2 separate regions of the Homo sapiens genome follow, and region 1 is linked to region 2. The links come from fine-mapping of genetic effects on gene expression. A gene starts in region 2. The other region holds a variant in brackets. All regions are shown on one strand. Distances are between the middles of the regions. Region 1 overlaps ERP44 (endoplasmic reticulum protein 44). Region 2 holds the start of ERP44 (endoplasmic reticulum protein 44).

Region 1 (2,913 bases), 78 kb before region 2:
CATTAAAGCAAGGACAAACAATAAAGGTCAAAAAATGGAGAGGATATATTGTGCCAGACATCCAGGCTCCATTCAAGATAGCTACTACAGTTAAGCCTAATAGTCATGAGCCAATGAAAAGAGAAATAATACTGCATGGAAGTCAAAGGATGGTTGAGATAACCTCCAATGAGGAGAGAGGGTCAAGAACAGAACCACAAAAATGATTCCATCTTGAGAAAAAGAAAAAAAAAAGGGAGATAAAGTCACAGAATTCAGACAGGTAGGGAGCAAACCAGGGGGATTCAATGTAAGTGTTGACACAGCAAAAAAAGAAAAAGGTAGTTGAACATCACACCCTTCAGAGGAATTGAAAAGGAGTAAGATGTTTAAAAGGCCACTCGATTTGGTAATTAAGAAGTCATTTTGTGACTGTGTAGAGACAAGTTTCATTAGAGCAATGGAGGTGAAAGTTAGCTTCCAAAAGGTTAAGTTTTTTACTGGTTAGAATTTAAGAAAATCAAGGTAGCCAGGCATAAACTAATCTTTGAAAAAAATAAAAAGAAAAAGAAAGGTGAAATTATAGCTTAAGAGAAGAGGCAGGTCAGGAAAGAAAGAAGCGTGTTTTCAGAAAAGGAAAGCAGTTCTTGAAAAGGGTCAGGTTGAAAACACAAGCAGGAACAACTGATGGATCAAAGCCCCAGAGGAGTTTGAAGGACACCAGTTACAAGGACATCAGTGAAGAGGTTAGCCTTAGAAAGAATTGTTCCCCTGAGACAGGGAAGATCTATAAAAAAAGGTGGTGGAGAGATGGAGATGAATGAAGACGATAAAACTCATGCTTCTTAACAAGAAAGACAGTGTGTTGTTTCACTGTGGTTACCCCACAGATTAGCATTTTGTCTGACATAGGGTAAGAGTTAGTAAATGAGTTGAATAAAAGCATGAATTAGTTAATTGTTAACTTGTCCATTTTTTCCCTCTTGCCCACATTCTGAAATAGATAATACTACAGAAAGAAAAACAGACTTTTAAAACCTTAAAAAGAATTCAGAGACAGGTATAAAGACTGTTTAGTGATTTTAAAAGGATTGAGATCATTTTTGGAAAGATCATCTTCAGGAAATGACCAAATACAACAGCAATTTAACATGGCAGCCAACCAACCCACTAACACACTTTTAAATAAGATACTTACCCAAATGCAGAAAGAAAGGCACAGTCATCATGCAAAATATTCGCTACTCGTTCAAAAACTCTATAGTTGTCCGAGTCCTTTTGCTCAAAATATCCAATGATATTTCTTTTGCTGCGCTGTAAAAT[A/G]AAGTATGCAATTATTTTGCAAACATACATAGTTTTATAAACATGTTATTTCATTTACCCGTTATCTTAGTACCTAAACAAGTCCAGTCATTGTTCAAATGAAGTATGACTATAAATGCATATTTAGTTTTTAACACCTAGTCCAAAACTGTTAAAGATTACATTGGGTTGAAAACAATCTTAACTATAATAAATACAATCATAAACATTTCCTTCCAGCGTTCAAAATTCTTAAGAAATAGATAACTATTTGATCAGTGACAATCTTTTCCTAAGTAAGGGGACTAATTCTAAAATGTGTTAAAACAATGTATCAATCATAACTTGTGACTGTTGGAGAGACTCCTCCATGGCTCTCTCACACTCCTACCCATCTTACTGGGTACACCAAAAAATGCAAGACCCTGACTATCCTTTATCCAGGCCATTTCTCAGAGTTGTGCTTGTAGCGAGCAACACGGAAATACGAGGTAATGCCTCTAGCCAGGACAAATAGCAGGGTTACTGCTTGCTCTGAAATAGTGAGTTCCCCAAGCCCAGTGTCCCTTTCCTGTGACATAACCCAGTGCATGTGCAGGTATCCATCTGGGGAGCCCTCTGTATTGCCTCCATAGGATTTGGAGGGCAAGGAAACAAATGCAAACATGCTCACACTACTTGCTGTGATGTGAGCAATAAAGTCCTTTGTCTCTGACCCAGCAGTCTTGTGTCTTCTAAAAGAATCCATGAAATGGTAATTGGTTAGCTTAGCTTGCAAGTAGGGTAAAGTCAAATCTCAAACCTGACAGTGATGATTGGTGATTGTGATAAAGCCCAAACTCAATTGTTTTTGCTTTTGTTGTTTGTTATCTTTAAAACACTACCTAGTGTACAAAGAAAGGGGTGTGCTAAACTTATTATTAAGAAGAGGCTATTTAAGAGGACATTAAAACTCATAAAAAGAGCTCATACAAAAGTAATTAGAGCAGACACCCTGAAGCTCTCCACAAGAAAAATACAGAAGCTCTGGTTGTATATACTTGACTTTTAACTTCCATTTCTTTATAATTGAGGCTTTCCTTTGTGCTCAATTAATTCAAATTAGTACAGCTTTACTGCATGCTATATCTTTTATCCAGAAGTTCAGTATAACATAAGCATTTGCCTTGAGATTAATTCAAAAAAATTCAACTCATTAAGTATACGTATGTCAAATCCACTGCAATAGACTATAGGAGAATGTCCAGATTTTTTGTTTGCATTAGAATTTGTTTACATTAATCAGGGAATGTTTGTTTAATCTAGCAAAAGTTACAACTTACATCAAGAGTGGTGATTTCTGCTAAGTCCCGAATTTCTTGAATGGGGTCACTTTTTTGTTGCCTGATGTAATCTGCCAATGCTTTCACTGATCGCTGACCCCTGTATTCTCTCTTCATCATCATCCCATTACGAAACAATTTGAGGGTTGGGTATTTGCTTATCCTGTATCTCTGGGCTATGTCAGCTAAAAGAATGAAAAAAAATTATTTACCCTCATATGTAGTCAGGGCAAGCCTGTTTGCCTAATGGTCAAAAATCTTACAATTGCTTAGTGAGAACTTTTTGGTTCAAGTCATTGTTTTTCAGTGA
Region 2 (2,913 bases):
TCCCAGCTCTGCCTGTAACTAGCTGTGTGACTTCATATGCGTCACTAAATCGTTTCTTAAATTGTAAAGAAAGTAGTTCTTAATGTTTAAATCTGAATTTCTAAAAATCTACTACAATTAAGGTACTTTCAAATATTACATTATAATTAACAGCCCAATTAAATATAAGCCATTTTGCCATACGTGTTTAGTCCTTCGCTTTTGTCTCAATTTGACCTGAAGCCTGGATCAATTAGTCTGCACACTCAAGACGTACTCTGGGGCAAGAGGGACTAGGGAAAGATTCTTTTAAGATGGGATGATGCTGAGCAGGTTAGGCAGTTAGGAATGAATGCATATTCAAATAAGGCGCAATGAAGAAGAAATCTGCTTCCATGGGGAAATACGTTGCAATAAGATTTGAGGGAGGCCTTGAGCTGAGATTGTCAGGTAACCACACCTTCCACCCTTCAAACTCTATTCTCCCAGTGGAATCCAAACCAGTCTCCAGTTCCGGGTTCCCAACCAATCGCATCAAGCCACAACAGAGGGATCTGCCAACCCGGGCACCGCTTCAGGGATCTAGACCCAGTGAGAGTCACACAACCCCAGCACCTGTCGACCTCACACTCTTCCCAAATGGAGAGGGTGGGAAGGAACGCTAGGTCTATGCTTGGTCTTTTCCGATTCAAGCTACCACCAGGTCCACTAGCCCTCGAAACCGAAACCCCCGGACTTCGGGGAGAAGGGGAAGCTCCTACGCCGTGACTACGTATCAGTCCCTCAGGGCTAATTCTCCCATTCTCCCCCGACACTGGTTTCTCAGGCCTCGGGGACTCCGCGCCTGGAAGCCGACAGGCGAGAGTGAGGGCAGCGGGGGAGGGTGCACTCCAAAACACTGCAGGAAAAGACGGAAAAGCAGGGGCAGGAGTAGCAGTGTTCCCCCTGGGCGAGGGCCGGAGGCCGTTCGTGCGTTTGTCGATGGGTCTGTCATTCCCTCACTCACCAGGAGCAGAAGGGAGCATCTGAGGTCGGGTAAGGATAGGAAGACGGCAGGATGCATGGTAACGCTGGGGTCCGTGACAGGGACAGGCGCTGGCGGCTGGGACTGGGCTAGGTTGGGTTGGGTTAGGAAAGGGCTGGGCTCCGGGAGCCGACGGCAGCGGAGGATTCTCCAGGCAGCGGCACCTCGTCCTCTCGACCCGGGCTCCAGCGGCGAACACCCGGGACAACTTCCAGAGAGGCCTCTCACACCCTCACTTCCGGGTCCTGCCCACCTCGGTGCACTTCGGGAAATGTAGTCCTGCACTAGCCTCACCCCGCACGTCGTCCGTCATCTAGAACTTCCTTTCCCATTGGGCTCTCGGCCCCGGTCCACTGAGTCCTCTGCGCGCGGGGTCCTGTGGGATAGAAGGGCGGAGGGCGGGTGTACGCGGTGCTTCAGAGGATGGGAACTACAATTCCCAGAAGGATGTGCGGCCGAAAGCCTCGGGCGGCCTTTTGAGGGGCTCGGCTAGCTTCAGCGCCGTGGGGTCTGACCTGGCTGGATATAGTGTACCGGCCCGGCAGGAGGGGCGGCCCGGTCCGGGTTGCGCCTCCTGGAGCCGCCCCCGGGACGTCAGTCCTGGAGGAGGCGAGGGTGAGTAGGAGGGGGCCTGGCTGGGGAGGCTCAGATCATTCGGTCCGCACCGCCTTGGCCCCTGCTGCAGACTCACGGCCTTCCTGGCCTAGGCTGTGGCCTGAGCCTCCATCATTGGCCTCCTCGCCCGCTGCCTCTTCTTTCTGCTCTAATTCCTGCATTATAAAGTCAGAGCCACCACTCGGGGCCTCAGTTGAATGAGTCAATGACTTATCCCTGATTGTCTCTGAGGGCTCCTGTAAGGAGTAGATGTGGTACGGGATGGGATAGCACGTCGTAAACTGGAAAACTGTGTGAGTGATTGCTGCTAAGGCGTGGATCGCTCCTCCAGTATAATTACGAAATTCCCTAGCAAAGCAGTCGAGGATCCTAACTTGGCCCCAGGTAGCTCTGCGGCTTCTTCTGCAAACACTCAGTGAGGTCCAGGAGCCCACGCGATCTCTGCTTAGTACCCAGGAGGCACACTGTGCTTTTGTGGTTCTCCCTGCTCCCGCCTTTGCTTCAGCTTTCCTGCTGCCTGGAATGGCCTTACCCGTTCTCTCTCTGGAATGCTATCTTAAATGTCACCATCTCTGAGAACTTCCCGAACAACCAACCCTTTAGTCCTAATCAGAATTACTCTTCCTATGAGTGTGACTGCAGTACCTCTAGTTTTGTACGGTTATAATTATTAGAGCATTTATTACACGGGCTTGTTGTATAATTAGGCAAGGATGATGACACCTTTGCATTTTATAGCACTTTATCAAAGTGGTTTTGACTTTTTTCTATAAAAAATGATTTATTTTCTTAAAGGGGCAAAAAATACATTTTTTCTTAAGAAAAAAAAAGAGCCCTGCATAATGGCTTTCTCAGGGTGACAAAATTAGACAGTGATAGAGCCAATACTCTTACCAAGGCGGCCTAACTCCTAGACTAGTGCTCCTATCTCTTGTCCACGCCCCTGACAGAGCCCAAAGATAGTTGAAATGGGAAATTTTAAAAGAGCAGAGACTTGTAAGTATGAACTCATTATTCAAGAAATTAAACTTTGATCCTGCTCACTTTTTGGACTTAGCACTCAGCCTGTGACCTTTCATCCAACAAACATCTACTGAGTACTGGCTATATACCTGTTACTGTGCTAAGTGCTAAGAATTATGAAGTAAAAAGTATATATATATAATATATATAATATATGTACATATAATATATATAATATATGTATATATAATATATATATTATATATGTATATATAATATATATATTATATATGTACATATAATATATATATTATATATGTACATATAATATA

What was found. PIP is the estimated chance that this variant, and not a neighbour inherited with it, causes the effect.
Region 1: its variant is the best candidate, but not a certain one, in a credible set for the expression of ERP44 in whole blood (INTERVAL, PIP 0.58).

The regions. Positions count from the first base shown.
Region 1 is chr9:100,019,439-100,022,351 of GRCh38, forward strand. ERP44 (endoplasmic reticulum protein 44) reads right to left here. Exons shown (of 12, transcript NM_015051.3): 5 at 2,604-2,788; 6 at 1,178-1,293. All of the region lies in intron 2 of LOC105376176 (a long non-coding RNA gene), which reads left to right. Among named protein-coding and RNA genes, the nearest start is that of ERP44, 78 kb to the right of the region's middle. The variant A/G (reference allele first, on the strand shown) is at 1,303.
Region 2 is chr9:100,097,799-100,100,711 of GRCh38, forward strand. It overlaps ERP44 (endoplasmic reticulum protein 44), which reads right to left and starts at 1,202. Exons shown (of 12, transcript NM_015051.3): 1 at 986-1,202. The coding sequence starts at 1,042. INVS (inversin) reads left to right here and starts at 1,445. Exons shown (of 17, transcript NM_014425.5): 1 at 1,445-1,618. RefSeq lists enhancers at 1,049-1,118, 1,129-1,268 and a silencer at 1,509-1,718.